2 linked regions of the Homo sapiens genome follow. The protein of the gene in region 1 purifies or fractionates together with the protein of each later gene. This does not show direct contact. Each region holds a gene or a part of one and is shown on either strand. Other genes may lie near its edges.

Region 1 (16,501 bases):
TACACAAAATTAGCTGGGCATGGTGGCACACGCCTGTAATCCGAGCTACTCAGGAGGCTGAGGCATGAGAATCGCTTGAACCTGGGAGGCAGAGGTTGCAGTAGGCCGAGGTCGTGCCACTGCACTCCAGCCTGGGCTACAGAGCAAGACTCTGTCACAAAAAAACAAACAAAAAACCCACGATGGACTCTGGGGACTCAGGGGGAAAGGGTGGGAAAGGGGCGAGGGATAAAAGACTACAAATTGGGTGCAGTGTATACCGCTCGGGTGATGGGTGCACCAATATCTCACAAATCATCACTGAAGAACTTATTCATGTAACCAAACACCACCTGTTCTCCAATAACCTATGGAAAAAAAAAAAAAAAAGAAGGCTGGGCGCGGTGGCTCACCCCTGTAATCCCAGCACTCTGGGAGGCCAAGGCAGGTGGATCACCTGAGGTCAGGAGTTTGAGACCAGCCTGGCCAGCATGGTGAAAACCCATCTCTACTAAAATTAAAAAAAAAAAAAAATTAGAGCAGCTCAGACTGGAGCTCTTTGTCCCTAAAACAAAGCCTTAGGAAGAGCCTCTCAGTGCCTCCTCCCCACAACACACACATAAATAAATAAAAAATGAAAAAATTAAAGCATGAGCAAATTATTTCACATTGAGAGTCATTGACTATATGGCTTTTTTTTTTTTTTTTTTTTTGAGTCAGAGTTTCTCTCTTGTCACCCAGGCTGGAGTGCAATGGTGCAATGTCAACTCACTGCAACCTCCACCTCCTGAGTTCAAGCGATTCTCCTGCCTCAGCCTCCCAAATAGCTGGAACTACAGGTGCCCACCACCACGCCCGGCTAATTTTTTACATTTTTCGTAGAGATGGGGTTTTCACCATGCTGGCCAGGCTGGTCTCAAACTCCTACCTCAGGTGATCTGTCTGCTTTGGCCTCCCAAAGTGCTGGGATTACAGGCATGAGCCACCGCACCCAGCCATATGGCCTTCTCCTTGAATCTGGCCTTCATGCCTTGCATGTTTAAAGCAGCTTACCCGTGTTACTCGGGAGGCTGAGGCAGGAAGATCACTTGAGGTCAAGAGTTTGAGACCAGCCTGGGAAACATAGCAAGACCCCATCTAAAAAAAAAAAATGAATACATAGGGGCTGGGCGTGGTGGCTCACGTCTGTAATCCCAGCATTTTGGGAGGTCAAGGTGGGCAGATCACGAGGTCAGGAGATCCAGACCATCTTGGCTAACACGGTGAAACCCTGTCTCTACTAAAAATACAAAAAATTAGCCGGGCGTGGTGGCGGGCACCTGTAGGCCCAGCTATTTGGGAGGCTGAGGCAGGAGAATGGCGTGAACCCAGGAGGCAGAGCTTGCAGTGAACCAAGATTGTACCACTGCACTCCAGCCTGGGCGACAGAGCGAGACTCCTCAAAAAAAAAAAAAAAAAAAGAATACATAAAACTCAGTTTACCGTGAAATCATCTTCAACTCTTCATTTAAGCTGATAGGAGAGGCTTTTTTCAAAGGTCTTCCCCTAAATGGGCTAACCTGGCCTCAGAATTTAATAAAACCTCATGGTCTTTGATATTTCTGGACTATAACACATGTAGTGTGTACACTGACTTTTATTAGAGTTTTAAAAATAACATGTAAAAAGTTAAGTCGAATAAAAGGTTATGAACTCCTGATGTACTTTCATTATCCCCTAGAGTCCTCTGAGACATGCTGAAGGGAAGCAAGCTGATTTGACCTATCCAGCCTGGGTCCTTTACCTGTGAGGAGGTGGGCCTAGAAATCTGCAGAGACTGAATTGGAACTCCCACCTGTCAGAGAACTGAGGTCCCAATCAATTCTCACTCAGCCTGGGCTTGGCTGAACCCTGGCCCTCCTCAGGGCCTGAGGCCCAGACACTGGCCACCCTGGCTCAGAGTCTGGACTGCAGGCTCCACACCACAGCACAGAGCCCACTCTGGGCAGGTCAGCATTTCCTGTGCCTCAGCCCCACTGGGGAATGGGTCCTAAAAGGTGAGGCAGGTCCTGTGAAGCCCGAGACCCCAAAACTCTAGGTTCTATAATTCTGACAGGGGCTATTCTTCCTTCCCGAGGGAAACTGATTCCTTTCCCTCTCGTCATATTGAGAGGTGACAGCGTGCTGGCAGTCCTCACAGCGCTCTCGGCGCCTCCTCTGCCTGGGTTCCCACTTTGGCGGCACTTGAGGAGCCCTTCAGCCCACCGCTGCACTTTGGGAGCCCCTTTCTGGGCTGGCCAAGGCCGGAGCCGGCTCCCTCAGCTTGTAGGGAGGTGTGGAGGGAAAGGCACGAACGGGAACCGGGGCTGCGCGCGGCGATTGCGGGCCAGCTGGAGTTCCGGGTGGGCTTGGGCTTGGCGGGCCCCGCACTCGGAGCAGCCGGCCGGCCCTGCAGGCCCCGGGCAATGAGGGGCTTAGCACCCGGGCCAGCAGCTGCGGAGGGTGTACTGGGTCCCCCAGCAGTGCCAGCCCACCGGCGCTGCGCTCGATTTCTCACCGGGCCTTAGCTGCCTTCCCGCGGGGCAGCGCTCGGGACCTGAAGCCCGCCCATACCGGAGCCTCCCACCCGCTCCGTGGGCTCCTGTGCGGCCGGAGCCTCCCCGACGAGCGCCGCCCCCTGCTCCAGGGCGCCCAGTCCCATCGACCACCCAAGGGCTGAGGAGTGCGGGCGCACGGCGCGGGAGCACGGCGCGGGACTGGCAGGCAGCTCCACCTGCAGCCCCGGTGCGGGATCCACTCGGTGAAGCCAGCTGGGCTCCTGAGTCTGGTGGGGACGTGGAGAACCTTTATGTCTAGCCCAGGGATTGTAAATACACCAATGGGCACTCTGTATCTAGCTCAAGGTTTGTAAACACACCAATCAGCACCGTGTGTCTAGCTCAGGGTTTGTGAGTGCACCAATCGACACTCTGTGTCTAGCTGCTCTGGTGGGGCCTTGGAGAACCTTTGTGTCAACACTCTGCATCTAGTTAATCTGATGGGGACGTGGAGAACCTTTGTGTCTAGCTCAGGGATTGTAAACGCACCAATCAGCGCCCTGTCAAAACAGACCACTGGGCTCTACCAATCAGCAGGATGAGGGTGGGGCCAGATAAGAGAATAAAAGCAGGCTGCCCAAGGTAGCAGTGGCAACTCGCTTGGGTTCCTTTCCACACTGTGGAAGTTTTTTTCTTTCACTTTTTGCAATAAGTTGCTGCTGTTCGTTCTTTGGGTTTCCCACTGCTTTTGTGAGCTGTAACACTGACGGCAAAGGTGTGCAGCTTCACTCCTGAAGTCAGCGAGACCACGAACCCAACAGGCGGAACTAAAAACTCCAGACGCGCCGCCTTAAGAGCTGTAGCACTCACCGCGAGGGTCTGCAGCTTCACCCCTAAGCCAGCGAGACCATCGAACCCACTAGAAGGAAGAAAGTCCAAACACATCCGAACATCAGAGCAAACTCCAGACGTGCCACCTTAAGAGCTGTAACACTCCCTGCAAGGGTCTACAGCTTCATTCTTGAAGTCAGTGAGACCAATGAACCTACCAATTCCGGACACAATATGATGTCAGTGATAAGCAGAGACACTGGTTTTTGTTTCTTAGAGAGACACTATTTTGCTGTCACCCAGTCTGGACTGCAGGGGCACGATCATAGCTCATTGCAGCCTCGAACTCCTGGGTTCAAGTGATCCTCCTCCCACCTCAGTCTCCCGAGCAGCTTGGACTACAGGCACATACCACCACACCTGGTTATTTTGTATTTTTATTTTTTGTCAAGACAGGATCTTCATATGTTGCCCAGGCTGGTCAACAGCCTTGGCCTCCTAAAGTGCTAGGATTTCAGGCTTGAGCCACCACACTCAGCTGCAGACTTTTTTTTTTTTTTTTTTTTTTTTGAGACGGTCTCACTCTGTTGCCCGGGCTGGAGTGCACTGGCACGATCTTGGCTCACTGCAACCTCTGCCTCTCGGGTTCAAGTGATTCTCCCACCTTAGCCTCCACATACCACCACGCTTGGCTAATTTTTTTGTATTTTTAGTAGAGACGGGTTTTCACCATGTTGGCCAGGCTGGTCTCAAACTCCTGGCCTCAAGTGATCAAACCGCCTTGGCCTCCCAAAGTGCTGGGATTACAGGTGTGAGCCACCGCCCACAGCCCATAAACATTTTCTGATAGCCCTGTCAAAAAAGTAAAAAGCAACACGTGAAGTTAATTTTAACAATATACGTTATTTAACCCAACACACCTAATAGTCATTTCAATATGTAATCAATATAAGCCATGGTTGTTGCAGTTTCACACTTTCCTTTCTTACTGTATCTTCCAAATCGGGGTGTGCTTGGCACGGCACATCTTGGTTGGGACCAGCACATTTCAGGAGCTCATCAGCCCATGTGCCTGGGGCTGACTGAGACTTCAATTCAGGAGGAATTGTAATTTCTCTTCGAAAACACCTCCCTTAGCTCCCGCCTTAATCCCAGCTACTCAGGAGGCCCTGGCGGGAGGGTCGCTTGAGGCCAGGAGCTGGAGATCATCCTAGGCAGCACAGTGAGACCTCCCCTCCCAGTAAAAAAACAAAAAAAAAAAACAATTGGCCAGGCGTGGTGGCGCGCGCCTGTGGACCCAGCTACTCTGGAGGCCGGGGTTGGAGGATCGCATGAGTCCAGGAGTTGGAGGCTGCAATGAGCAGAGATCGCGCCACTACACTCCAGCCTGGGCGACCAAGCGAGACCCTGTCTCGGAAGAAAGGAAAGAAAAAAAAAAAAAAAAAAAACACCTCCCAGCCAACTCTCAGGGCCCACCGCTGGCGGTTCCCAGCCCGACTGGGCGCCCCCAGCCGGGGTTAGCCAGCGCCACGCAGCCGGGCCGGGAAGGGGCGGAGCGGCCGGGCCCCGCCCCCCTCGTCGCGCCGGGGCCGCCGGGGCCACGGGGCTGCCTCCTCCGCCTAGAGCGCTGCCGCCGCCGCTTTCGCCCGGGAGCCGGGGGCCGGGCGCCATCATGCTGAGCCGGCTCGGGGCGCTGCTGCAGGAAGCCGTGGGGGCGGTGAGGCCGGCAGGGCCGGGCCGGGCCGCCGGGAGTCGCGGGCCTAGGCCGGGCTGGGCGGGCGCGGAGCCGGGCGCGGCCCGCAGGAGGGCGGGCGGGCGCGGGCCCCCTCGGGCAGGGACCCCCGGGCCGCGGCGCCCCTTCCTCTGCCTCCCCGGCCGCGCCCCGCTTCCCCTCGCTCTTCCCAGTCCCGCTCCCAGACTCCTCCCGACCGCCCCACCTCCCCGGCCTGCTCCCGCGTCGCTTCCTGTCTGTGCGTCCTGGCCCCGGAGTCTCTCCCAATTCCCGAACTCGCCTCCGCCGGGACGCTCCCTGTCACCGCTTGGGGTGTTTCCTGCCCCCCGGGGCCCTAGGCCGCCTCCCCCCAGTCCCGGTGGGCCTGCCTCCTTCCTCCGCTCCACCCCACCGCCTCGCCTGGGCTTGAAAAAATCGCCGTCCCTTCCCCTCGGTCTGATCTCCCAGACAACTCCAGGACCTTGTTGGGGTGCAGGACGCCCTTCCCGTCACCCCGGGACGTGGGAAGTGCAGGCCCTGCCGGTCCAAGTCCCCACGAAGGGTAAAGACCCGGGGCAGGCTGGTGGGCCCCCAGCCGGGGAAATCGCCTTCTATTGGGTGCAGATGTTTCCAGCGTGGCTGTGACCCCTCACAAGCCAAATTGAGTTAGGGACATGCCGCCCGTGGTGGGGCCTGGGTGGCCCTGTGCGGGGAGGAGAGTCCATTGATGTTTCACGTGCCGTCAGTTTGTGTTTTTGCCATTTTTTGTTGGGGCTGCAGGCTGGCAGGCAGCCTACTACTAGGGTTCGTTCAGCAAGATGTAGCGCTGTGTAGGAAGGGTGGGGGTATTCCCGGTAGGGTGGGGGGGGTGCCCGCTGTTGAAAGTAACTCTGCCAAGAAGCTGTCTGTAAAGTCAGCAATACTTCTGCCTCCTAGTATAAATCTTCCCCCAATTGATGAGTTGAGTATCAGATTTTCTCAGGAGAGAAAGTCTTGGGTTTCACCCTCCTTCCTCCCCACCACCTCCTCCCCAACCCTCATGGGAGCTCCTGTTGAAAGAAGTTTGCCTTAGGCAAAGTTGGGAAGAAAGTCAGAAACTATGACTTCCTCCACCTTCCCAGCCCTGCTGTTGACCCAGGGCCAGGGCCTTGGGGCATCCAGGTAGAGAGGGTTCCAAAATGATTTTTCTTCCCCTTCCCCCATCCCCAGTCAAAACAGCTGTGATCTTCAAAAGTGATCTGATAAACCAATTCATACCTCTGGGGAACACTCCATTTACAGGAGGTGAGACAGGCCAGACAGTTCCTCAGTCCTGAGGAGTGAATTTCTTTCTTTTTCTTTTCTTTTTATTATTTATTTATTTATTTCTGAGCCCAGGCTAGACTACAGTGGTGCGATCTCCGCTCATTGCAGCCTCCACCTCCTGGGCTCAAGCAATCCTCCCACCTCAGCCTCCTGAGTAGCTGGGACTACAGGCATGCGGCACCACGCCAGGCTAATTTTTGTATTTTTTGTAGAGACAGGGTTTCAACATGTTGCCCAGGCTGGTCTTGAGCTCCTGGCCTCAAGCGATCCTTAGCCTCCCAAAGTGGTGGGATTACAGGCATGAGCCACCGCACCCGGCTAGGAGTCAAATTCTAAGGCTTCCAATGACAGAAGTACAGGCATCAGTGGCAGGAGATTTTGGCAGTGGAGGGAGATCTTTTTAGGCAGGTGATCTTCCGGGCCCTTTAGTATTGACCATATAGGCTATGTCCGGGCGGTGTGGTTGGCCCTACAGGGAGACGGGAATTCCTCTTTTGTGCTCTACCCTCAGGTCGCCAGTCTAGGTCTTTCCCAAGCCTTGGTCACCAAGTGTGATCCTAGTAAGTCAACTGATTACTCATTGAGTAGGAAGACTGCTCCTTCCCGCCCTCTTCTGATCTAACAGATTAGGAATCATTACAGCTTTTTTTTTTTTTTTTTTTTTTTTTTTTTAAGATGGAGTCTTCCACTGTCACCCAGGCTGGAGTGCAGTGGGGCGATCTCAGCTGACTGCAACCTCCACCTCAAGTGGTTCTCCTGCCTCAGCCTCCTGAGTAGCTGGGACTACAGGGCTGCGCCACCACGCCCAGCTAATATTTGTAATTTTAGTAGAGATGAGGTTTCGCCATGTTGGCCAGGCTGGTCTCGAACTCCTGACCTTAAGTGATCCACCTGCCTTGGCCTCCCAAAGTGCTAGGATTACAGGTGTGAGCCACCACCATGTCTGGCCACTAATAATATCGTTAAAGAGAAATTGTTGGGTCTAGTGCCTTTGGTTTGGAGTTATCATAGCTGGTGGTGGAGTTAGGTAAAGATCACACACCTGTGTCACCAGCTCTCTAATGGCCTGTGCTGGTTAACCTGCCTCTCCCGTGTCTCCTGCCGTACTGGAGTATTCTTTTTGGTTAAAGCCCAGCTCAAGGTTTTCAAAGACTATAAGCCAATTTTGAGGCTAAAGGAGACCCCATCACAGAAATTATGAGATAATTGTAGGGCTGGTGAAGGGCCAGAGGACTTTCTAAAACAAGGAACTAGGGAAAGAATCTCTCCAGGAGTTTCCTGAGATATCTGGTAAATATTCATGGGTATTCACTATGTGCTGAGCCCATTGAGGGCAGGCTAGCTGTAAAACACAGAACCCTGGCTCTCAGGGAGCTCATCATCTAGCAGAAGAGATGATTGCTCAGCACAGCAGGCACTGTCACATAGAATGTAGTGAGATGCGGTCACTGCACAGGGATGGAATATTTGGAATAACTGTGGGTGGTGCTACTTTTGAGAAGGGTTGCAGCCCCTACCAACTAGCTTTGCAAGAAGACAAGATGCCCTGCGGACTGAGGGGAGTTTCCAGTTCTGTGAATGTCATCCCTCCCTCCCCATGTTGCAGTGGCCTTCTAAGCATATTCTTCCTGCCTTTACCTCCTCTCCCAAGGCCAACTGCCAGATGAGTCTTCCGAAAACACTGCTCAGAAGGTGCCAATGGCCGGGTGTGGTGGCTCATGCCTGTAATCCCAGCACTTTGGGAGGCCCAGGTGGGCGGACCACTTGAGGTCAGGAGTTTGAGACCAGCCTGGCCAACATGGTGAAACCCCGTCTCTACTAAAAATACAAAAATCAGCCAGGCGTGGTGGCACATGTCTGTAATCCCAGCAACTTGGGAGGCAGGAGAATCACTTGAACCCAGGAAGCGGAGGTTACAGTGAGCTGAGATGGTGCCACTGCACTCTAGCCTCAGTGACGGTGAGACTCTTTTTTTTTTTTTTTGAGACTCTGTCTCAGAAGAAAAAAAAAAAGTTGTCATTGACCTGCTCCCTGCTGCCTGCAAAAAATGACTGAGACTTCTTGGCTTGGCATTAGAGACTCCGAAGTCTCGCCAGCCCACCCCTTCCCCAGGCACACTTTGCAGAGTTCCTTCTGCAGGGACTGTCTTCCTTCTCTTGTTGATATTGACCTGGTTCTTCAAGTTTTAGTTGAGATGTGATCTTGGTAAAGCCTTCCCTGTTCCAGCCTGTTAGAAGTTACCCCTGTTTTTCTGAGAGGTCACTACTTTCCACCTCTCCTGCGGCCTCACACTACTTCCTTGTAGCTTCGTTATTCAATGCGGTTTTATATCGTCTTCTCCATGACACATTTCTTGAGGACTAGGTGTTAGTCATCCTCATGTTGCTTGTGGCATCTAGCATAGTGTCTTGTACATAGTGGGCACTTAGAATGAACAAATGATTTCATGAGTGGCTACTCAGTTCTGTGGTGCAGTAAAGTGTGAGGTCAGAGAGGTGTGGGCAGGCAGGGACACTGGAGAGGGCTTGGTGGAGCTGCTGGGGACTGAACCTCACTGGGGACTTTCACGATCCAGACAGTTAGTGGGATACAGAGCACCTTGGGCAGAGGAGTGGCCCCAGCAAAGACCTAGAGGCAGAAATGCACAGCTGTGGGGAGGGATGATTAGAATTCTTTTTTTCCTGAAAACATTTACTCTGCAAGAAAAGCGAAGGAATGGTGTTGTTGTTGTTGTTGTTGTTGTTTTTGAGAAGTTTTCAGGGAAAGTGATTGTTCTCAGTGCAAGGCCAGTATCAGCCATGGTGTAGAGATGGAGAGAGCACTCATGGAAAAGGGGGAGGTTAGGGGCTTGCCCAGAGCAGAACCAGAATTTTCCAGGGCTTGATAGAAGGAGCCGGTAGAGGAGGAAACGAGAACAGCACTGGCTGAGGAGTTGGGGTTGTGCAGGCTCAGGCTTTGGACACAAGATGAAAGCATGTAAGCATGTTATAAGGAAGGCACATTGTTAATATCATGCTAATGTTACCTACCCTTCCGGCTGAACAGAGCCTGTGGTGGTCTTGAACAGATTTTCATAGACTCTCAGATTGAGAGGAATGGAAAAGCTTTGTCTTTTTTTTTTTTTTTTTTTTTTTTTTGAGATAGGGTCTCACCTTGTCACCTAGGCTGGAGTGCAGCGCTGCGATCACAATTCACTGAAGCCTTGACCTCCCTGGGCTCAGGTGATCCTCGCACCCCAGCCTCCCAAGTAGCTGGGACTATAGGCAGACACCACCACGTCCTGCTAGTTTTTAAATTGTTTATAGAGACAGAGCTTCATCATGTTGCCGAGGCTGGTTTAAACTCCTGGACTCGAGCCGTCTGCCCACCTTTGCCTCACAAACTGTTGGGCTTACAGGCGTGAGCCACTGCACCTGACCTTTGCCACATTTTCGATCTGTATCATTTTGCTTTTCTTTGGGGGACTGCGCTCCCGTGTTCCTCTATGTGCCTCTACTGTAGCGTAACCATGCTGTGTTGAAATAATCTGTGTCTGTTTCCCCCAGCAACATTCTTAGCACCTCCAGGACAGAGACAGGACAGGATTGTGACATACAGCAAGAAAACAGCATTTCCAGGAGGGAGGGGTATCTAGGGAGAAGTGCCTGTCAGGAGATCCTTGGCAAGATGACAGTGTGTCCTGGAGGAAATGTGTTATTCCTCCCTTTGAAAGCCAGGGAGCAGGGTGCCTCCTCATGAGGAGGCCTAGCATGAACCTGACACTCAGAATATCTGTTCCCATGCGGGCAGGGGCTCCCTGGCCTTTGTGGCCCCCACTGAGGTTGTGTGTCTGCCCTCCGCAGCGCGAGCCCAGCATTGACCTGCTGCAGGCCTTCGTGGAGCACTGGAAGGGCATCACGCACTACTACATCGAGAGCACAGGTGCGGCCTGGCCCTCCCCAGCCCAGGGACCCTGGAGGGAGCGGGGAGGAAGGAGTGTGCAGAGTGTCACCATTCAGGTGTCCTGGGAAAGGTAACCTGCCCAGTCGTTCAGAATTGGAGCCGAGTTCACGGAGACAGAGAACCAGACAGACAGAAGACCCAGAGCCCTGGGCCACTCCACTCCTGATGATTTAGCTGCCGGTCCCACTCTGACCTTTTGGAAAGAGGCTGTGTGAGGAAGGAGTAGCCTGGTTGGGGGTCTCACTGGCCTGACTCTGCAAGGAAGAGGTGGCTGCACTTCCCCCAGCTTCCAGCTCCAGACCTTCAGGCCCCAGGTGCTTGTGCCTAGGATTTAATGATCAAAAGAAAAGAATTTAATAAATTCCCCTTTCCCCTGAGCCAGCTTAGGGGCAATGTCCTTGTAGAGATCTGGGGTAGGAGGAGAACGAAAACCAAGGTGGGTAACATGCCTGGGTCCCTCTCTCCAAGCTGACACCCCAAAGAGCCAAAGCCTTGGCACCTGGTCCCATCAGGACCGCTCACTGAGGGGATGGCATCTGAGTGGCTGCTCTGCAGTCATGAGGCTGCCATGGGTGGATACGGACTGGTTGCCAGGTAACCATATCCTGCATCCCTCACTTTTCCCTTCCTGGAGTTCATACTGGGGCTTGATCCCAGCCCACACCTTTCCTACAGGCTTTCTTTCCAGCCCGGGCCAGCCCAGGAAATTCAGAAATCTGTGGGACCCTCTGAGGGTTCTGCTAGACCAGGTTTCTCAATCTTGGCACAGTTGGCATTGGACCTGGAGCCTTCCCTGCGCGGGGCTGTCCTGGGCGGTGTGGGATGTGCAGCAGTAATTCTGGCCTCTACCCACTAGGTGCCAGTAGCACACCCCACCCCCGAATTGGGACAACCAGGAAGGTCTCCAGACATTGCCTCATGTTCCCTGGGGGGGAAAAGCGCACCCCTGGTTCTGAACCTATCTCTTCAGGTTAAAGATCTCTTGAAGGAGAGCCTCAGTCCACCAGCTCAGTAAGATCAGATCAGAACTGGCTGAAATTCACCTGGGGCTTCCCCCATCCAGCCCTTTCATTTCCAGAATGGTCCCTAGACCAGAAGGGTTGGAAGTGCGTGGGGCAGGCCGCCCTACTCAAGCTCCTGTTCCTTAAAGGAAAGCTAGGGGGTGCTCCAAGTCTAGCCCTGAAGCACCAGAACTTTCTTTAAAACACACACTGAGACTCTGACTGCAAAAGCCCCCACTAAGTAGCTTCCCCGTCAGGGCGTTGGTACAGGGAGCAGGACTGGGTCAGACCTGAAGGTGGTGGCACAGATGTTTTTTTCTGCTTTGTGAAAAACAGAGGCTTGCCTTCTCTGAGTGTCAGTGGGGGAGGCCCCAGGAGGTTCTCTCTCAGGCAGCTGCTGGAATTACAGCTTCTAAGTTATGTGACAAGAGCCCTGAGCCCACAGTGTCCACTCAGGCCCAGAGCTGACAGCAGCCTTCTGTGGGCCCAGGACCATGTGTCCCTGTCTCTGTACCCATCCTAGGGTTTGAAGGAAACCGATGCTGCTGCCCCCTGATAAAGGGCTGGGCATGCATGCGTTCTCAGAGGACTGTGTCCTGAGCCTGGAAGGACTTTTGTCTTCTTAAATATTGAAGCATTCACTGTAAACTTCCATTTCCCAGTTGCCAGCAGCTGTCTTCCCCCACCTCTCCCAGACAGGACCTCCCCTTTCTGGGCTTTGGCAGGAGAGGGTGAAGTTTTCAAGCCGGGGTGCCCCTCTTTACCCTACTCACCCTTGTTTCCCAAACATCATTAGATGAAAGCACCCCCGCCAAGAAGACAGACATTCCCTGGCGGCTGAAGCAGATGCTGGATATCCTGGTGTATGAAGAGCAGCAGCAGGCGGCCGCGGGTGAGGCAGGGCCCTGCCTGGAGTACCTGCTGCAGCACAAGATCCTGGAGACTCTCTGCACGCTGGGCAAGGCCGAGGTGGGAGGCCCTCTGCGCGCTGGGCCAGGCCGAGGTGGGAGGCCTCTGCGCGCTTGGCCAGGCCGAGGTGGGAGGCCTCTGTGCGCTGGGCCAGGCCGAGGTGGGAGACCCTCTGAGTGCTGGGCCAGGCTGAGGTGGGCGGTGGGCAGTGGGCAGCCTGGGGCTCCCTGGATTCCAGGCCTTTCTGCCTATGCTCTTCCCAGTCCTGACACTGAAAGTGGCAGTTCGGGCGAGAGGAGCAAACAGGACGGGCACTGTGGCTGTCTCACTTAGAACACTCCACCATCCCAGCGCTCCTGTTCCCAGTTCACTCCACAAAGATGGGCCTGCCATGTGCCAGGCTCTGCTCTAGATGCTGGGGACACAGCAGGGATTCATACTGACAAGAGCCAGGCATGGTGATGCGTGCCTGTAGCCCCAGCTACGTGGGAGGCCGAGGTGGGTGGATTGCTTGAGCCCAGGAGATGGAGGCTGCAGTGAACTGTTATCGTGAGACCGCACTCCTGCCTAGGAGGCAGAGCAAGACACTGTCTCTTAAAAAAAGGAAAGAAAACTCGACAAGAATCCTAGTGGGAGAGGCAGGACCATCCTGTGATGGGTCAATAATGACCCAGTCATGGAGCACAGTGATGCAGGAAAAGGGGTTGTGAGTGCCAGGAAGGCTAGTTTCGAACAACGTGGCAAGGGAAGCAGGCCTGTGAGAACGGGCCCTCTGAGCCGGAACTGAGGGAGGAGTTGAGCCTGGGGCTCTCTGGGGGTGCAGTGTTCCAGGTGGGGGACACAGCTCTGACAGGCGCTCTGTCCCTGGCCTCAGTACCCCCCAGGCATGCGGCAGGCAGGGGACACGGCTCTGACAGGCGCTCTGTCCCTGGCCTCAGTACCCCCCAGGCATGCGGCAGGCAGGGGACACGGCTCTGACAGGCGCTCTGTCCCTGGCCTCAGTACCCGCCAGGCATGCGGCAGGCAGGGGACACGGCTCTGACAGGCGCTCTGTCCCTGGCCTCAGTACCCCCCAGGCATGCGGCAGCAGGTGTTCCAGTTCTTCAGCAAGGTTCTGGCGCAGGTGCAGCACCCCCTGCTGCATTACCTCAGCGTCCACAGGCCTGTGCAGGTGAGGGGCCCGGAAGCCAAGGGGTGTCTGGGTGTGAGGCCCCCTCTCTCCCCTGCCACCCCTCTCCCCTCTGTTTCTGTCCTGGTGCTCTTCCAGAAACTCCTCCGACTTGGTGGGACTGCTTCCGGATCCGTTACAGAAAAGGAGGAGGTGCAGTTCACCACCGTCCTCTGCTCCAAGATCCAGCAGGACCCAGAGCTGCTCGCCTACATCCTGGAAGTGAGCACTCTGATCGGGAACAGGAGGGGGAGGGCCCAGAACCCCAGGGCAAGCCCCCTCTGCCCTCCTGAGGAGGCAGAAGCAGAGATCAGGTACCCGGGAGGCACGCAGGCAGCTTCCCCTCCAGCTCCAGGCCGACGCCCTGCTGGCAGCCCACCCTGCGGTCCCAGTGGGGGACCCTGGGAAGTGGTCCCCACCAGGTCTGGCCTCATCTCACCCTCTTTTCAGGGTAAAAAGATTGTAGGTAGGAAGAAAGCATGCGGAGAACCCACTGCCCTGCCTAAGGACACAACCAGCCACGGGGACAAGGACTGCTCCCACGATGGTGCTCCTGCCAGGCCCCAGCTGGACGGGGAGTCCTGTGGGGCCCAGGCCTTGAACAGCCACATGCCTGCTGAGACCGAGGAGCTGGACGGTGGGACCACAGAGAGCAACCTGATTACCTCCCTGCTTGGGCTGTGCCAGAGCAAGGTGCTGGCAGCAGAGATGGAGAGGTTGGGGGTGGGGGAAGGGTGGGTTGACGGCTGGGGGGTGATTTGGGGGCTCACATGCATGTCCCTGAAGTTGTATCCTCATCCCCTAGAAGAGTCGGGTGGCCTTGAAGGCCCAGGAGAACCTGCTGCTCCTGGTGAGCATGGCCTCCCCAGCAGCTGCCACCTACCTGGTACAGAGCAGCGCCTGCTGCCCTGCGATCGTCCGGCACCTTTGCCAGTTGTACCGGTCCATGCCTGTCTTCCTGGACCCCGCAGACATTGCCACCTTAGAGGGCATCAGCTGGAGGTGGGTGCCCAGCCCGGGAAGGCCGGCCAGCATCTTCAGTTGCTGGCAGCCCTGCCTGTCTTTGGTGGCCAGCTCCCCTGGGGTTCCACGTTGCTAGGGACCCCTGCTGGCCACCCTCTCCCCAAGGCTGCAGCTGATCCCCAGGGGACTTCTTGCCCTCCAGGGAAGTACTGGTTTTGCTGCCTCTGTCCATAAAACCCCCAAGATAACTGATCCCCAGCCACAGAGGTTCCACAGGAGAGGGGAAGGGCCCAGTTTCAGGACACATTGAGGAAGACCTTGAAGCTCCTTCTCCACTCTCTGAGACTTCACTCCCCTCTTCCTTCAGGTTACCCAGTGCCCCGTCTGATGAGGCTTCCTTCCCTGGCAAGGAGGCCTTGGCTGCCTTCTTGGGCTGGTTTGATTACTGCGACCACCTCATCACAGAGGCACACACGGTGAGCAGGGGCGGGCGGAGGCCGGGCTCTCATGCTGTTCCCTGTACCATCTCCATCTCGAGGACCAAGTGGAGCAGGGACATGGAAACATGGGGTCCAGGAGCTAAGCGGGGCCCCAGGCGGGCCGGGACCCTCTCCTGTGGCATCAGGCGCCGCGCAAGAACACGGTTATTTCTCAGCTGGAATTGTAATGAGGGCAAAACACATTGGCGCTCTCTGGCACCCAGGTGGTTGCGGACGCCTTGGCGAAGGCTGTGGCTGAGAACTTCTTCGTGGAGACCCTGCAGCCCCAGCTCCTGCACGTGTAAGTGTCTAGTTCCCTCAGGCATGACTGTGGTCTACAGTAAACCACCTACCCCACCCAGCCTCGTCCTGTCCCTAAGGCCAGACACCTTCTTGACCAGAATCCCATTTGTGGACCCCATTGGGTGATGTTTGCCAGGCCTGCCCCATGATGTGCACGTGGCTCTGAGCTACGTGGGCTAAACGAAGGCCTCCTACCCTTCCCTGCAGGACCTCAGCAGGGATGGGCAAGTGACCACAGACATACCAGCCAAACATGCGAGGCAAGCAGGAAGGGTTCGGCCACCCGCACTCATGTGCTGTCTGCACACACCGGGCCTGGCTAAGGTGCCCTCTTCCCGTAGGTCCGAGCAGAGCATCTTGACCTCCACCGCCCTCCTCACAGCCATGCTGCGCCAGCTTCGCTCCCCTGCGCTGCTGCGGGAGGCCGTGGCTTTCCTCCTGGGCACAGACCGGCAGCCTGAAGCCCCCGGGGACAACCCCCACACCCTGTATGCTCATCTCATCGGGCATTGTGACCACCTCTCTGATGAGGTACAGTGGGGGACCTCCATCTCTGTTCCTCTCACCACCCCTGCCAGAGGGATTTCCTGAACACTCTTCCCATTTCATTAGTGTTCCCAGTTGACTCCACCTTTGAGACACTGAACTGCAAAACACTGCCGAGCCACTTTTATCACACACTAATTTTCTATGATCATATACTTTTTTTTTTTTTTTTTAAAGAGACAGGGTATTGCTCTATCACCCAGGCCCTGGAGTGCAGAGGTGTGATCATAACTCACTGCAGTCTCCAACTCCTGGCCTCAAGCGATCCTCTCACCTCAGCCTCCTAAAGTGCTGGGACTGCAGGCATGAGCCACTGTTCCCAGCTTATTTTTTTACAGTATTTTATATTTTGCACACTTGGCTCGCTGGAAGGCTAACACGTACTACTTCGTGAGGTAGGCGAGGTTGATACTCCCATTTCTCAGACATGGAAAGTAAGGCACGGAGAAGCGAATTGGCTTGCCTGAAATTGCACATCAAATTAGTCACATACCAGGGACCACCCAGACTTCTGGATTCCTAGGCCCACACCCCCCAACTACCCCCAAAACCTGCCACCTTAGCATCCAGCCAAGGGAGGTGACTCTGCCTCAGAGGTCTTTTCTTATCTGGGTTAGCCATGCCAAGGCACCCCTGGGAGCTGGGTGGGGAAGGGGCTATCCTGCCGACCCCCTTCCTGCTCCAGATCAGCATCACCACACTCCGGCTGTTTGAGGAGCTGCTGCAGAAGCCCCACGAGGGGATCATCCACAGCCTGGTCCTGCGCAACCTTGAGGGCCGCCCTTACGTGGCCTGGGGCTCACCAGAGCCTGAGAGCTATGAGGACACCCTGTAAGTGAAACCGGCGC
Region 2 (15,607 bases), on another chromosome or scaffold:
ATCCAAATGGAAGCCTAAGAGATGAACAATTCTTCCAAGTTTTCCATTTCAGCAAGCTTTCTGGTGTTTTTCCCAGAGATGCATCAACTGCCCAGGAAATTGGGTAGGAATACAACACAGCAACTGGAGAGGTCAGCTGCCTCCATCCTCCCCCACATTTCAGAAATGGCAGAGTCAAAGCCAAAATACAATCAAAGCACACTATGTGGTGAGCCAGTTAGACATGTGATTTTAATGACAAAGTGGGAGAAAATAAATTGGCCAAAAAAATTAACAAAATACATTTTTACAGATATATATATATATATATAAGTTGTTATCGATTTGTCTGGTGTTTTAAGGGGAAAGGGAAAAGGAAAGGAGGTAAATTTTTTAGCTTCCATGAACATTTACTTTAAGATGCTGACTGCATCTCTTGGTGTAGGTTCCAGATGAGATAACAAACTAGTCTTGGATCATCTGGGCATCTGATTTCTAGAAGCCAATGATTCACTCACAAGTAGCTCTAGGTATTTATTCTTAGTTGTGAACACTGGATTCTGTGTGGTCCTGGATGGCACCAACTGTAGTTTCCTGTTCAGGCATTCCCTGAGGGACCATATTGTCTTCAATTACCTGCTCCCTTGGAGGGGACCTTGACACTGGAGCTTTAACCAAATTCAGAGGGTCGCCACTGTCATCATCTACTTGCAGAATTGCCACCTCTGTGGTGGATGCATTCGATATTTCTAGCTGTAATGGCCCCAACTCCAGGGAACTACATTTAGAAGGGTCACCTGGCTCAGAGAGTGGAGAACACAGTTTATCTTTTTGAACTCCAGAGGTCCGTGTGACAAAGTCAACAAGGTCTGGAAGGCAAGGAGATGGCCCAAGGCCTGCAGAATTAATTGTTTTTAATTCCAATCCGAGTGACTCTTGTTTGTCTAATTGGGAAGATTCTTTTACTTCCTCAGGCATCATTCCTCCTGCTAACAGGTCAAGGGCCTGGTGTGTTCCCTCTAGGCCCCCCAAGCCACGGTCAACATTTTCTGTAAGTCCAGTTTTCAAAATGTTAGGAGAAGGGATCCTAACACTCCTGGGATTAGGTGAGTTTCGTTCACCCTCTGTCTCAAAGTCAAGCACCAAGGTTTTGGGAGAATCTAACGGAAACCCAGAAAAAGATGGGATTGGTTCGAAGTCAGCGGGATCGGAGGAATTACACCCTATAGGTGATACAGAATTTTCTTCACACACTTTCTGACACAAGACAGTTGGGGATCTATGTGCTGGGCTTACCCGAGTAGTGCAGAAATCAACAGGCATATCCCCCAGATTCCCCAGGGCAGTAAGCTCCTCTACCTTTAAGTCTGTAGCTTCAAAGTCTTCTAGGGCCTTGCTTTCTATTGTCACTGTTAACTCTGGATGGACATCTTGTAGCTCCAGTGCTTCTGTTTTTGGTTTCTCTGGGCTCTCCCAGGTCTCTGGCCTCTTCTTGTTTTCATCCCAAACAGCCAACTCATAGATCTTTTTAACTTGAAAGTCTTTTGATCTTTCTCTCTTGAGTTTGAGACTTCTGTACCTAGAAGTTCTAGAAGCTGATTCTGGAGCTGAATTCTCTAGCCCCTCCTCACTAACAACTGAAACTCCTTGCTCTTGTGGACTACCTGTTAAACACATAGCTGATCTGGCTGGGGAATGAAGCAGCAACTCTGGGGCAGAAATTTTCACAGGTGTATCTTGTGGGTTGAGTAAAGACCTAGCTTCTGATAAAAATGAGTCTAATTTTGCCTTTGTGAAAGAGCAAGCCTGTGGACTCAATTTGATCACTACTTTACTTGGAGTTTCACTTCCTGTCATCAATTTATTGGACTGTTCAGCCTCTTTGTCAATCATTAGCAAGTTGGGCTGTTTTACTTCTCCCTCCCACATGTATCTGTTTCCATGGTTCAAATTAGAATCATCTATGCTGTGGGGTCCAATGCTGGTACTTACTCCCTCATCAACTATCCCCTCAGACAGCTCCTTTACCCTTTCTTTTAGTTCAGTGTTTGTCTCTATCTCACTTTCTCTACAATCCTCAGATTTACGGAGCTCTTGGCTTTCCTTATCCTGGTTAACAGATTCTCTGAGGTGGATTTCTACCAACTTCTGAGATTCTTTGCACTGTATATCTAACAGTTGAGGAGGTGGTTCTACACCAGGTGGTCCTGGCTCTCCCAGGTCAAGCTCACTCTTCTCTGGAGATATATCCCTACTAGTGTCACTCTGGAAGGAACTAGAGGTCCATATGGCCAAAGTGTCTGTCTTTGGGGTAATTGTTTCATAAGGCCTGCTTTGGCACAACCTTGTCAGAGGCTGTAGGAAGCCATAGGTGCTGCCTGTGCTTTTTGGGCCTACATGTTCTACAACTGACCATTTCCCTAGGGCCACCAGAGTTTTTGCAATGGGCTTTTCAGAGTTGCTAACTATAGGAGCAGCGACCAAACCCTCATCTTGATGCAACTCCTCTTGGGATGCACTGCTGTTCAAAGGAGAAGTAGAAGAGGTGTCTGAACTTTTGGTTCTAGAGAGGTTGCTATTTTCCCCATTGGCCAATGGACCACCACTTAGCTTAGTCTCAGGGGCCCCCTTAGTCTCAGGGGCCCCCTTTCCACCACTACTATAGAATATGTCATACAGGTCCTTAGCATTGGCTGTGGCTAAGCATGAATTTCGCTTCTCTAATTTTTTGGCTTGTTCACTGAACACACTTGAGAGGGGTGGTGGAGGACGTACTAACACAGAGAACAGGGTCTGGTCTCGGTCACTCTCACTCACCCCAGGAGCTGTCTCATCAGAAGGAATGGCAGCTGGCTGTGCTGAGGCCATGATGGCTACAGGCAACACTGGGTTCAAAATGTTAGGACCCACGAAGCCAGGGCTGAGAGTCTGAGATACAACTGGGTTTGATTTTACTGGAGCCAAGATAGCATTTGCTTGAGCAGCAGACGGGGCAGCTGGATGAGGTATAACGGGGGGTGGTGGAGGTGGTGGAGGTGGGGGTGGTGGAGGAGGTGGTAGTATTTGTTCAGGTAAATGAGATGGCTCACTCTTTTCAGCCAACACCACTTTTTCCTCTGGAGACCCTTTTAGAATCACCTCTTCCCCTCCAAATGCTTTGGAGATGATGTCTGGAGGTAAGAGGAGATCAGCTGAAGACTCTTTAACCACTGGCAGAGGTTTAGCAGTGGTTCCAGAGGACTTAATAGACAGAAAGGTGTTAAGAGGAGCTGGCTTGCTCATTGTGGCTGAACATGACTTGCGGAGTACTGTGGATGGAATAGGCAGGTTGGGTCGGATCTTAGTCTGTGTGGAAGTTGTCACAACAGGCATCCAAGGGCTGGTATGTGCAACAACAGTTTTCCCAGAGAGCTTGATTTTGATAGGCTTTGCCTTCCCAGCTTCAGTTTTGCCATCCTCTTTGTCCTTACTACTTTCTAGAATCTCTTCTTTAGAGATACTTGGGGTCACCAATGAACTTTTCTCCTCTTCTTTTTCTGGCTTCTTCCAGCTGAATTTCCCAAAAGAAGATGATGTTGGTGATTCCTTCTTTACCTCTTCTTTTAACTGGAGTTTGATGCCAGTGTTCCTTTTATTTTCAGCTTTTTCAGGGGAGTTCCTACCCTCAGAGAGTTGGTCTTCTAATTTCTCAGAGACCTTGTCATCCTCCTTTACTTCTTTCACAGCCTTTGCCTTTTTTTCTTTCTTCTCCTCCTTTGGTTTCTCACTAAGTTTGCGCTTTAGCTCACTCTGCCGTCGCCGTTCTGTCTCTAGGACCACAGCCAAGCCAGCTTGGCGGTCCAGATTCCGCCGCTCCTCATATAATGGGTTTTCATCCACATATTTCTGGGAAGAAAAAAGATAAAGACTCAAAAACTGGTGAAAATACAAGAGAAAAAAATCTTGGCCCCGCTACTGTTAGAATTCATTTAGTAGAAATCCCCAGAATTATCTTCCTCAAGGACATACGGGATGCTATCTGCTGAGCATCTCCCACTAGGATTGAGGAGAACTTAGAGGTTATATGGAATTTGAAGTGTCAATGGCTTTTTCTGGCTCGGACGCCATTTGACAAAGTCAAAATAATTACTTCAGAAAAGTTGGAAACTCCACAGCCTACTACAAAGACCAACCTTGTATTTCTCATTGTGTTGGTGACCCTTCACATGTTGCTCCCCAGAAATTGGATCCCCCAAAAATTCCTCACAGAGCTGGCAATAAAATCCACTGATGGGAACCAGAAACTCAGAGCCTGGAAGAAGTAGAAAAAAGTCAAGGAAATAAGTCGATTCCACCCAGAATGACAGCAACCAATGGAAATCCCACCACCCCTTTGCAGTAAAATGGTTACAGTATAGAGGGCCTTACCCACTTTGAAGTCAGAAGCAGTATTTAGATGAATCCCAATGGCACAGTCTTTCCAACCTAAGGCTTGAACTACAGTCCTCTATTTCTTCTACCTCTTGGGAACATTATACTGGTTAATTTAGGAGTTTCCTGTGCCAGATTAATTCCTGTTGCTGAGTCTCCTCAAACCCTAACTAGCACCAAGCATCTCAGGAAATATAAAAACTATACTCCCAAATAGCCCATTACCATTTTATGATGATCTCTCATGTTGGTATTAATTACTGAGGAAACTATCTTCTGTAAATCTCAAGGGTATAGTAGCAGCACTAGCTACTTGTGAAGGTAAGAAATTGAAAAGTTTATGGGCTGAGCACAGTGGCTCATGCCTGTAATCCCAGCACTTTGGGAGGCAGAGGTGGGCAGATCACGAGGTCAGGAGATCGAGACCATCCTGGCTAACACAGTGAAACCCCGTCTCTACTAAAAATACAAAAAATACAAGGCATGGTGGCAGGCGCCTGTAGTCCCAGCTACTTGGGAGGCTGAGGCAGGAGAATGGGGTGAACCCGGGAGGCGGGGCTTGCAGTGAGCAGAGATAGCACCACTGCACTCCAGCCTGGGCAACAGAGAGAGACCCCATCTCAGAGGAAAAAAAAAAAAAAAAAAGAAATTGAGAAGTTTAAAGACAAAGGAAGTTTCTGCTTCTCCACTTACCCCTTAATAACAATGACTCAAAATATTGTATAGTTCTTAGTTGAAAAGGCAGTTAAATTACTGCATCTCCTGTCCTTTTTAACCTGGATTCCAAACAAGTAAGATTTTGGGCCCATAAGCCAATGACAAAGACAATTCTGTTTTAAGTGACATGTCTATGTTTAACATCTGTGAATAGATTTTTGGCCATATGGGTAGAGATCATGGTCTTATAGATCTCTTTATAGCTTCAGGACCTAGTACACTGTTTTGTACACAGAAGGCATTCCTACGGCTTTGTTAAAAGGAATGGCTGTCTCATGCTATGCTGCTTCCTACAATGTTAGTTCAGGGACACCTCTTCCTCAACTGAATGTAAGGAAACCACAAAGGTGGCAAAAAGGAAACATACCTTTTGCAGGAACAGTTATCTTGTCAGTGCGCTTTATGGCATCTTGCTTGGCCTCACTCTGGGTCTTTGAAGCCCAAGGTCTGTTGTAGGGATCCAGTGTCTATTTGTAAGAGGCAGAGGTGCTCACACAACAGCACTAAAAGCTCAATGACCCACTTTTCTCTTTTTTTTCCCCCATAATAAGACCAGGGGACCAGAAGCCCCCAGCTACCCACCCCCACCCCCTCTGCCAACTGTTTTAATGGAAATCACCTGTGGAAAAGGTAAACACATGTTAGAGCAAGTACCAGAAAAAGGTAAAATGAAACAAAAAAATCAGGTACTCAAGGAATCAAAAGAGGCAGAAACCTCACTTACACTTGTCATGGTGTTTAGTTACAGCCAAGTCCCCTGGACTGAGCCCTGGGGATGGTGTCTCCTTTGTTGGTGTCTCTTGGCTCTTCAGACTGGGGCTCCTGCCCATATGAGAATGTTTCCTTTTCCAGCTTTGCAATGCAGATAGGGGTATAGAAGTTTGAAGAGAGTGAGGGTGGGAGTGAAAATAACAGAGAGTAGGATACCAACCTGTGTGTGCTTCTTATTGTGCATATGAGTGAAGAAATCAAACATGGTCCCACAGATGGTGTTGCAGTCTTTGCACCAGTGATTGCCAGCATCATAATACTCATAAGCAGCAGTGGGCTGATCCAACTGCTTAGTGGCTGACTGGGGGCTTTCGGCAGGCTTGGGGCTCTTAGTACGAAACTTCTCATTGTTTACTTTTGATTCCTAGAGGGGAAAAATCTGTACTTACAAGGAATTCAAGGCAATCTAGACTTGTCTTCTGTTAGAAATAGTAAGTGGCCATAATAATAGAAATAGGGCCATATGACCATATTTCCAATGTTTAAAGCTGCACAAGTTGGGGGGAACCCTAACAGAAACATGTCTCTAAGACATAGAACTATTTGACTTCATAGTGCTATCACAGCATAAAAAGTAAATCATAATGGCAATATATTTACTTACATATCCTAAAATATCTCTAGAAGAACAGCCAAGGTTGTGGAAACATTGGCTGCCTCTGGGGAAGGGAAGTGGAGAACAAGGATGGGTAGGAGTCTCTTCACTGTATACCCTTTAGTAAATGTTGAATATGTTACCTATGCAACTAAACAGTTAAATTTGAAAATCATGACAGCTAGGGAGGGAAGAAAAACCAATATGGAAAAGGTAATTGACAGGCTAAGCAAAGCAAATGCAGAAAATAGGTGATAGTGAACTCATCACATGCATCCTGGTATGAAAAACTGGAGAGAAGGGTTGGTGTACATAGATAAAGTAGACTATACAACTACACATAGATAAAGTCATCTATGTAGAATGATTTAAAGGAATCTAGGAAAAACATTCCTAACTGCCTAAAATATCACTTTTAGAATTTAACAACTTTAGAGGCCAGGTGCAGTGGCTCACACCTGTAATCCCATCACTTTGGGAGGTCGAGGTGGGCAGATCACTTGAGGCCAGGAGTTCGAGACAGGCCTGGCCAACATGGTGAAACCCCATCTCTACTAAAAATACAAAAATTACCCGGGCATGGTGGTGTGCACCTGTATTCCCAGCTACTCGGGAGGTTGAGGCACGAGAATCACTTGAACCCAGGAGGCGGAGGTTGCAGTAAGATAAGATTGTGCCACTGCACTCCAGCCTCAGCAACAAGTGAGACCCTGTCTCAAAAAAAAAAAAAAAAAAAAAAAAATTTTAACACCGTTAACATGTATCCTTTTTAAAAATATATCAACTTCTTAATATTAAAGTTATCAACAGCAAATACTTTAATATGAATTAATTTATTACCAAGCTGGAACAAGGCACTCAGGAAATGAGAATTTTGGTTAATGTTCAGGAGTAAGGCACAGGAAAAAAAGATAATTTTTGCAACTCAGAGGCTCACTATGAATGGGGTTCTATAGTACACAAGATGAAGAGCTGGGTACCTGGAATATTGGCTCACGCAGGGAAAAAGGTAGGATACAGAAAGGGAAACAATTGGGGCTTCAAAGATACTCTTTCCCTACCTGAGTCCTATTCAAGAATCACTAAAGAAATCACACCAGACAGGCAGGGGATGGGAGAGTTCATACACTCCTGGTGGGAGTATTAACTGGCACCATCTTCTAGAAGATAATCTAGGAATACATTACATACCTCAAAATACTGTATACCCTTTAACCCAGCAATTCACTCCTTGACATTTATCCTATGGAAATTATCATGTCAAACAACAGGTGATTTGATTGGTTAAATAAATTTTGCTTAACCATGCAACCAAAACAACAAAAAATAAGGTTGTTAAAAATGGTATTATAGAAGTGTATTTACTGACATGGAAAGATGTTCATGATATACTGAGAAAACTAATAAAATACACTTGAATAATCAACAAAGATATGTAAATCGGCATACAGCGTTGAATATCACTTTATCCAAAATACTTTCTCTAACCACTCTATACTCCTTATCCTGTTTTCTTTTTTTAGGCACTTCTCATTACCTAACATGGACTTATTTATTTATCATCTTCTGCTATTTAATGAGAATATGAACCTTGTCTATACTGTTCAGTGTGATACTTCCCATATCTAGACCAGTTCCTGACACTTTATTGGTGACCAATACATATTTGTTAAGTGAATTGATGGACAGAATTAATACTTTGGTGTATGTATTTGGAATAACATACACCAAGGTATTAATAATAAATTAATGTATTTGGAATATATAATAATACCTTGGTGTATGTATTTGGAATAACATACACCAAGGTATTAATAATATTATACACCAAGGTATTAATAACAGTGGTCTCGGCTGGGCCCAGTGGCTCATGCCTGTAATGCCAGCACTTTGGGAGGCTGAGGTGGGCAGATTACTTGAGCTTAGGAGTTCGGGACCAGCCTTGGAAACATGGCGAAACCTCAACTCTACAAAAATACAAAAATTAGCCAAGTGTGGTGGTGGTGAGCACCTGTAGTCCCAGCTACTGGGGAGCCTGAAGTGGGAGGAATGCTTGGACCTGAGAGTTGGAGGCTGCAGTGAGCCATGACTGTGTCACTGCACTCAACTTAGGTGACAGAGTGAGACCCTGTCTCAAAAAAAAAAAAAAAAAGTAATAATAACAGTTGTCTCTAGGTAGATGAAATTACAAGTTTGTATGTGCTTTTCTGAAATGAACAGAAAGGGAAAGAAAATCTCAAACCAACTATACATTTTAAAGAGAGGTAAAGAAAGAAGAAATACCAAGGACAGGTAGGAAAGAAAGGCTGTGGACATAATATTCCTTACTGCTGAGATGAAAACTGAATTGTAACATATCCGTTAGTTTCAGAGACCATGAAGACGCACCCAAATCAAGATGACAGATTATCATTGGGTTCGTACATGAATAGAAATCCAATGTATAAGTCAATTACAAAGGACCAGAGCTTTTAAATTCTTCTCCCATCAAAGGCCCTACCTAGACTGAAGACCCAGGTATAAAAGACTAGGCCTACCTGGTTGAGAAAGAAAACTCTCCTAGGAAGACATGGAAAAAAATAGAGCTTGGGTGATAACACAGAATATATTCTCTTTCCTACCTCTCAATATTAACTGAGGATGTACTATGTGCTAGACATATTGTATGCAATGGGAAACACAAAGATAAAAAAGATTCCTCTTTTATCCTCTCGGGCCAGGTGGGGTGGCTCACATCTGTAATACTAGCACTTTGGGAGGCTGAGGCGGGAGGATCATCACTTGAGCCTAGGAGTTCAACACCAGCCTGGGGACGGGCGCAGTGGCTCATGCCTGTAATCCCAGCACTTTGGGAGGCGGGGGCAGGTGGATTACCTGAGGTCAGGAGTTCGAGACCAGCCTGGCCAACATGGTGAAACCGTCTCTACTAAAAATACAAAAATTAGCTGGGTGTGGTGGCACACGCCTGTAACTCCAGCTACTCAGGAGGCTGAGGTAGGAGAATTGCCCAGAAGACAGAGGTTGCAGTGAGCGAAGATCACGCCACACGCCACAGAATAAGACTCTGTTTCAAAAAAAAAAAAAAAAAAAAAAAAAAAATGCTGGGCAGGGTGGTTCACGCCTGTAATCCTAGCCCTTTGGGAGGCCGGATCACGAGGTCAGGAGTTTGAGACCAGCCTGGCCAATATGGTGAAACCATGTCTCTACTAAAAATATAAAAATTAGCCGGGCGTGGTGGCACGTGCCTGTAATCTCAGCTACTCGGCAGGCTGAGGCAGAAGAATTGCTTGAACCTGGGAGGCGGAGGTTGCAATGAGCCGAGATTGCGCCACTGCACTCCAGTCTGGGTGACAGAGCAAGAACTCTGTCTCAAAAGACCAGCCTGGGCAATATAGCAAGACCCCATCTTTAACCAAAAAAAAAAAAAAAAAAAAAGCAGCTCTCATTTAGTGGAGACAGACGTAAGAAGAGTCTTTAAATAAGACAACGAAATAAATTTTACAAAGAAACAAATTACAGAGTGCTAAAGAAGGCTGACTAGATCTGGGTGGAATTCTGGAAATTCTTCATGGAAGAGGTGGTATCCAAATTGGGCTTTAATGGGTGAGTGGGGTTGGGAGAAAGATTATTCCAGGCTAATAGGATTATTTATGCAAAACCAGAGAGGTGTAATACCAGATATTGCACATCCGGAAAATTGCATTTTGAGGTGACGCAGCGTAAGATGTAATATAATGTTTCTTCAGCAGTATTCATTACTATGTGCTGGGCCCTGGGCTATATATTGGGAATCATATTGAACAATGACACATATAAAGTCCCTGTAACTTTTGAACCTTAAAATCAAATTAGGGGAACACATTTAATTATAAAATCAGATCTGTCATAAATGTTAAGAAGGAAAATTACAAGATATTATGGGAGTGTATATCAGGCAAATTTAACAGTCTAGGGAATCAGAGAAGGATGTCAGGGAAGTAATTTAAGATCCAATCTAAAGGATGAATTGGAGTTAGAAGAGTAGATAAGGAAAGAGTTCGATTTGCATGGTAAAGAAAGGGAACAGAAAATGTGAGGTCACGAGAGGAGATGATACATTTGAGGAATGAAAAGGTTAGTAATGAAACTACAGTCAGCAAGAAGGAAAGAGGCATGAAATGAGGTTGAGGAGGTAGGCAAGGGATTAAGTATCATGATCACTGGCTATATGTGCAAAAAGAGTTAATTAACACAGCAACATAAGCAAAAACTGATGTGGCTTGGACTTGAATGTCAATGGAGATGATAAGGTGCATGGAATCGAGATTTACTTTGGAGAGGGACCTGACAGAATTTGTAATTGATTGCATATGGAGCAGTTAGGGAAAGCAGAGCACTGAGAGTGACTTTTAAGTTGTTGGCATGAAAACTGTCGGACAGTATGCCATTCATTGAGAATGCATAACAATGGAGAAAGAAAAAGTTGGAAGGAGGTTGAGCACAACCATTAATTTAGTTTAGGACATGCTCAATTTCAAGTGCCTATGAGATAATGAAGTGGAAATGGTGAGTTACGTTGTTAGACACTCAGAAGACTCATTTGACTAGAACATAAAACTGGCAATTGTCACATGGCATTTTAGCATAGGACTGGATGAAATGGCCTAGGAAGAAAGAGCAAATTCTGGCAAGGACTGAGCCCCGAGAAACTCAAAAATTTAAAGATTATGCAAGAGAGACAGCAAAGGATACTAAGCAGGAGCATCCAATGTACTACGAGGAAAAGAAGTGTGACAGAAGCCAAGGGAAAAGAGTATTTGTAGGAGAAAGTGATTCTTGGCCTCAAATGCTGCTCATTTGAGAAGTAAAATGTATTTACTGACTTTAGCAACACAGTAGTGACCTAGACATGAACATAGTTGCTAAATATGAACCCCCCAAAAGGGTATATACAAGTTCTGAGAAGATCAGAAGCCAGATAGGAGTGGGTTAGGGAGTAAATGCTGGAACAAGAACATAGAAGGTTCTGAATACTGAGGATTTAGGATTCTTTGTGGGCAACAAGGAACTATGCTGAAATTCTGAAGAGGAGTACCACACTCTGATCTATACTGTAAGAAAATAATTAACAAGAGTAAGAACAGTTTGAAAACCTAAGTTAAGAAAATGGTTAGAAAACCATAGGAGTCTAAGGGAAAAAAAAGATGATAGAAATGGAAAAATTGAGTTGTTACCTTGTTGGAGGAGGAGTTTGAGAACGATGACACTTTTTCTGGGCTCTTAGATTTTTCTGCTTTCCCAGGCTTCTCTGTAGGCTCTCTACTGTCACTTAAAGACTTCTGGGATTTATCGAAGATGTTAATTCCCAAGATCTGAGCCACTTTGTCCAGTTCAGATTGCTTCTTTTCTGCCTCTTCTGCCTCTTGCCGTAGCTCTGCAATGTCCTTCATAATGTTATCCTGAAGCCGACTCACCTCCACCAAGAGAGGATCTTTGTGGCCATCCTTCTCCCTTCGTTTCTTGCGCAGCATTTCTCCTGAGCAATCAAATGTCAACAAAAAGAAGCACAGGGAAAATAAGACGAGTCATTTCTCATTTACAAGCAATAATTTGTCAGGGCTTTATGGTTACAAAGTCTTTGCCCACAAACGTTTCTAAGAGTGGCTAGGCGTGGTGGCTCATGCCTGTAATTCCAGCACTTTGGGAGACCAAGGCGGGTGACTACTTGAGTTCAGGTGCTCGAGACCAGCCTCACTAACATGGTGAAACCCCGTCTCTACTAAAAATACAAAAAATTAGCCGGGCATGGGGGTGGGCGCCTGTAATTCTATTTACCCGGGAGGCTGAGGCAGGAGAATTGCTTGAACTCAGGGGGCGGAGCTTGCAGTGAGCCAAGATCATGCCATTGCACTCAAGCCTGGGTGATAGTGAGAGACTCCGTCTCAAAAAACAATTTTTTTTTCTAAGAGCAAGTGAGACTCTCCTTCCACATGGGTTGGTGTAAGTGAAGCTTCTATGAAGGTAAAGAATGGGTTATGACATTATCTTTTGTGTAAAGGTTATTAGCTAAGGATTTATGGACAGGCTTCAGGGGCTCCATGAACTCCCATAACAGTATATATAATTTTGTGTGTGTCTCTCAAAAACATTAATAAGTGTTGTAACTATGAATTTAGCAGTTGTCCTCTCTTCAGAGGGCTGAAGAATTATTTAGAGGGTAATATATTTGACTTTATCTGATCTAAGGACACTTTAACAACTTCTTCAATGAGTTTTAGGTTTTGCCTCTGGTTTATCTTTTTTTTTTTTTTTTTTTGGTAGAGATGGGGTTTTGCCATGTCACCAGGCTGGTCTTGAACTCCTGAGCTCAAAGTGATCTGCCTGCTTCAGCCTCTGAAAGTGCTGGGATACAGGTGTGAGCCACCACACCCAGCTGGCTTTTTTAATGTTATCTCCTGTTCCAAACTGCAGATCCTCTGGTGTTAATCCTCACAGGATAAATAACTCAATTTCTCATCCCTAAACAGTCCAAACCCAGACAGAAGCAATTATATCTTCTCCCACTCTCTGTTCTTTCATACTATCAGTATTTAGGAGCCTTGTTATGTTCTTTTCCTCACTGTGTATGTGAATTCCTAAAAGCATAAAGAAATGGAATAAAAAGGAAGGCATCAGGGAACATTTTTGTGTGTGTGTGCCAAATTTAAGGAAAGACCAGACACTGTGGTTCATGCCTGTAATCCCAGTGCTTTGGGAGGCTGAGATGGGAGGATCATTTGAGTCCAGAAATTCAAAGCTACAGTGAGCTATGACAGCACCACTGCCCTCCAGCCTGAACAACAGAATGAGACCCTGTCTCTTAAAAAAAAAGAAAAAAAGGCCGGGTGGGGTGGCTCACACCTATAATCCCAGCACTTTGGGAGGTCGAGGCAGGCGGATCACCTGAGGTCAGGAGTTAGAGACCAACCTGGCCAACAGGGTGAAACCCCGTCTCTACTAAAAATACAAAAATTAGCTGGGCATGGTGGCACACGCCTGTAATCCCAGCTACTTGGGAGGTTGAGGCAGGAGAATTACTTGCACCTGGAAGGTGGAGGTTGCAGTGAGCTGAGATTGCATCACTGCACTCTAGCCTGGGCAACAGAGCGAGGCTCCATCTCAAAGAAAGAAAGAAAAAGAAGAAAAAAAGAAAGTACTCAAAAACGATGGAGACATATTGAAAGGACACAGGAGCTAACTCACAGGGGGTCCCATTGGCCAAATTTGGAACAATTTGAGCATGAAAATAAATAATGATAATAAAAGATTATAACTTATCAAATGAAGAATCCATGAATTCATACTCATATAAATGAATAAACAAATGGGAGTGAGGGTTAGGAAGTTCCCTCTTACAGTGGAAAGCCAACTAATAAAGCTAGAAGGAATGAGGAACCTTGAAAAATCACTATTTGATAACCATCACAGGCCAGGCACAGTGGCTCATGCCTGTAATCCTAGCACTTTGGGAGGCTGCAGAGCTCAGGAGTTTTGAGACCAGCCTTGGCAACATGGCAAAACCTTGTCTCTAGCCAAAAAAAAAAATTAGCCAGGCGTGGTGGCTCATGCCTATGGTCTCAGCTACTCAGGAGGATCACCTGAGCCAGGAAGCGAGGCTGCAGTGAGCTGAGATCATGCCACTGCCACTGCACTTCAGCCTGGGTGACACAGCGAGACCCTGTCTCAAAAAAAATTTTTAAATAACTATTATCATAATAACTGGCTCAGGCAAGACTCATCAATGGATGCTAAAACCAGTGGGTGAAAGTCTGAGGAGTAACTGAATATTTACATAGTCTCAAAGTATCTCCTCTATAAGATTCATATTAATTAAAAAGGATAAAACAGTAACTTTATAGTGGAGAAATCTGGCAGACACCACCTTAACCAAATAATTAAAGTTAACATCACCAGCAATGGGACAAATCAACACCTGATACAAACTCAGCATCATTTCTGTGATAGTCTCGCCAAAAATGAATAACCTGAATTTAATCATAAGGAAACAGACAAATCAAAATTAAGGGATATTCTACAAAATATGTGACCTCTTATCTTCCAGAATGTTAATGTTATGAAATACAAACACTCAGATTAAAGAAGAGTACAGGAACGTGAAAACTGAATGTGATAAATAATCTTGCACTTTGTTTTGCTATAAAGGGCATTAACGGGACAATGTGAAATATGAGTAAGAATGGTAGACTGGATAATAGTACTGTATCACTGCTAATATCCTAATTTTGATAAGTGTATTAAAGTTATGTACCTTCTTTGTTGTTAGGAAATACTTAAGTATTTAGGAGTAAAGGAACATCACATCTACAAGTTACTTTAAAAAGTTCAGAAAAGGCCAGTGCAGTGACTCATGCCTGTAATCTCAGCACTCTGGGAGGCCGAGGAAGGAGGATTGCTTGAGGCCAGGAGTTTGAGACCAGCCTGGACAAAATGATGAAACCCCATTGCTACTAAAATTACAAAAATTAGCCAGGTGTGGTGGCACACACCTGTAATCCCAGCTACTTGGGAGGCTGAGGCTTGAGAATCACTTGAATCCAGAAGGCAGAGGTTGCAGTGAGCCAAGACTGCACCACTGCACTCCAGCCTGGGCAACAGAGCGAGGCTCCATCTCAAAAAAAAAAAAAAGTTCAGGAAAAATTACACACACACATACACACAAATTGAGAGAGAGAAAAAGATAGAGCAAGCGTATTAAAATGTTAATAATCTGGCAGGGTGTGGGAGCTCACGCCTGTAATCCTAGCACTTTGGGAGGCTAAGGCGGGTGGATCACCTGAGGTGAGGAGTTCGAGACCAAACTGGTCAACATGGTGAAACCCCATCTCTACTACAAATACGAAAAAAATTAGCTGGGCATGGTGGCAGGTGCCTGTAATCTCAGCTACTTGGGAGGCTGAGGCAGGAGAATCACTTGAACCCGGGGGACAGAGGTTGTAGTGAGCCAAAATCACACCACTTCACTCCAGCCTGGGTGAAAGAGCAAAACTTCGTCTCAAATCATCATCATCATCATCATCATCATCATCATCATCATCACCACCACCATCATCTGGGAGAAGAGTACCTGAGAATTCTTTGCACTATTATTGCAACTTT

What was found.
Region 2: the proteins of FHIP2B (region 1) and ZNF318 purify together in Homo sapiens (affinity purification with mass spectrometry; 3 studies listed by BioGRID and IntAct, with this or other methods). This does not show direct contact.

What each region holds. Positions count from the first base shown.
Region 1 is NC_000008.11:22,084,256-22,100,756, forward strand, and holds the start of FHIP2B (FHF complex subunit HOOK-interacting protein 2B), read left to right. Parts: upstream 1-4,894; 5' UTR 4,895-4,998; coding exon 4,999-5,043; intron 5,044-5,505; exon of another isoform or gene 5,506-5,599; intron 5,600-10,184; coding exon 10,185-10,263; intron 10,264-10,354; exon of another isoform or gene 10,355-10,598; intron 10,599-12,081; coding exon 12,082-12,254; intron 12,255-13,260; coding exon 13,261-13,365; intron 13,366-13,461; coding exon 13,462-13,584; intron 13,585-13,812; coding exon 13,813-14,055; intron 14,056-14,167; coding exon 14,168-14,364; intron 14,365-14,692; coding exon 14,693-14,801; intron 14,802-15,028; coding exon 15,029-15,105; intron 15,106-15,448; coding exon 15,449-15,638; intron 15,639-16,338; coding exon 16,339-16,484; intron 16,485-16,501. UniProt on the Homo sapiens protein: Able to activate MAPK/ERK and TGFB signaling pathways. May regulate the activity of genes involved in intestinal barrier function and immunoprotective inflammation. May play a role in cell proliferation.
Region 2 is NC_000006.12:43,336,639-43,352,245, forward strand, and holds part of ZNF318 (zinc finger protein 318), read right to left. Parts: intron 11,988-15,607; coding exon 11,686-11,987; intron 6,242-11,685; coding exon 6,038-6,241; intron 5,574-6,037; coding exon 5,474-5,573; intron 4,271-5,473; coding exon 4,152-4,270; intron 3,865-4,151; coding exon 520-3,864; 3' UTR 1-519.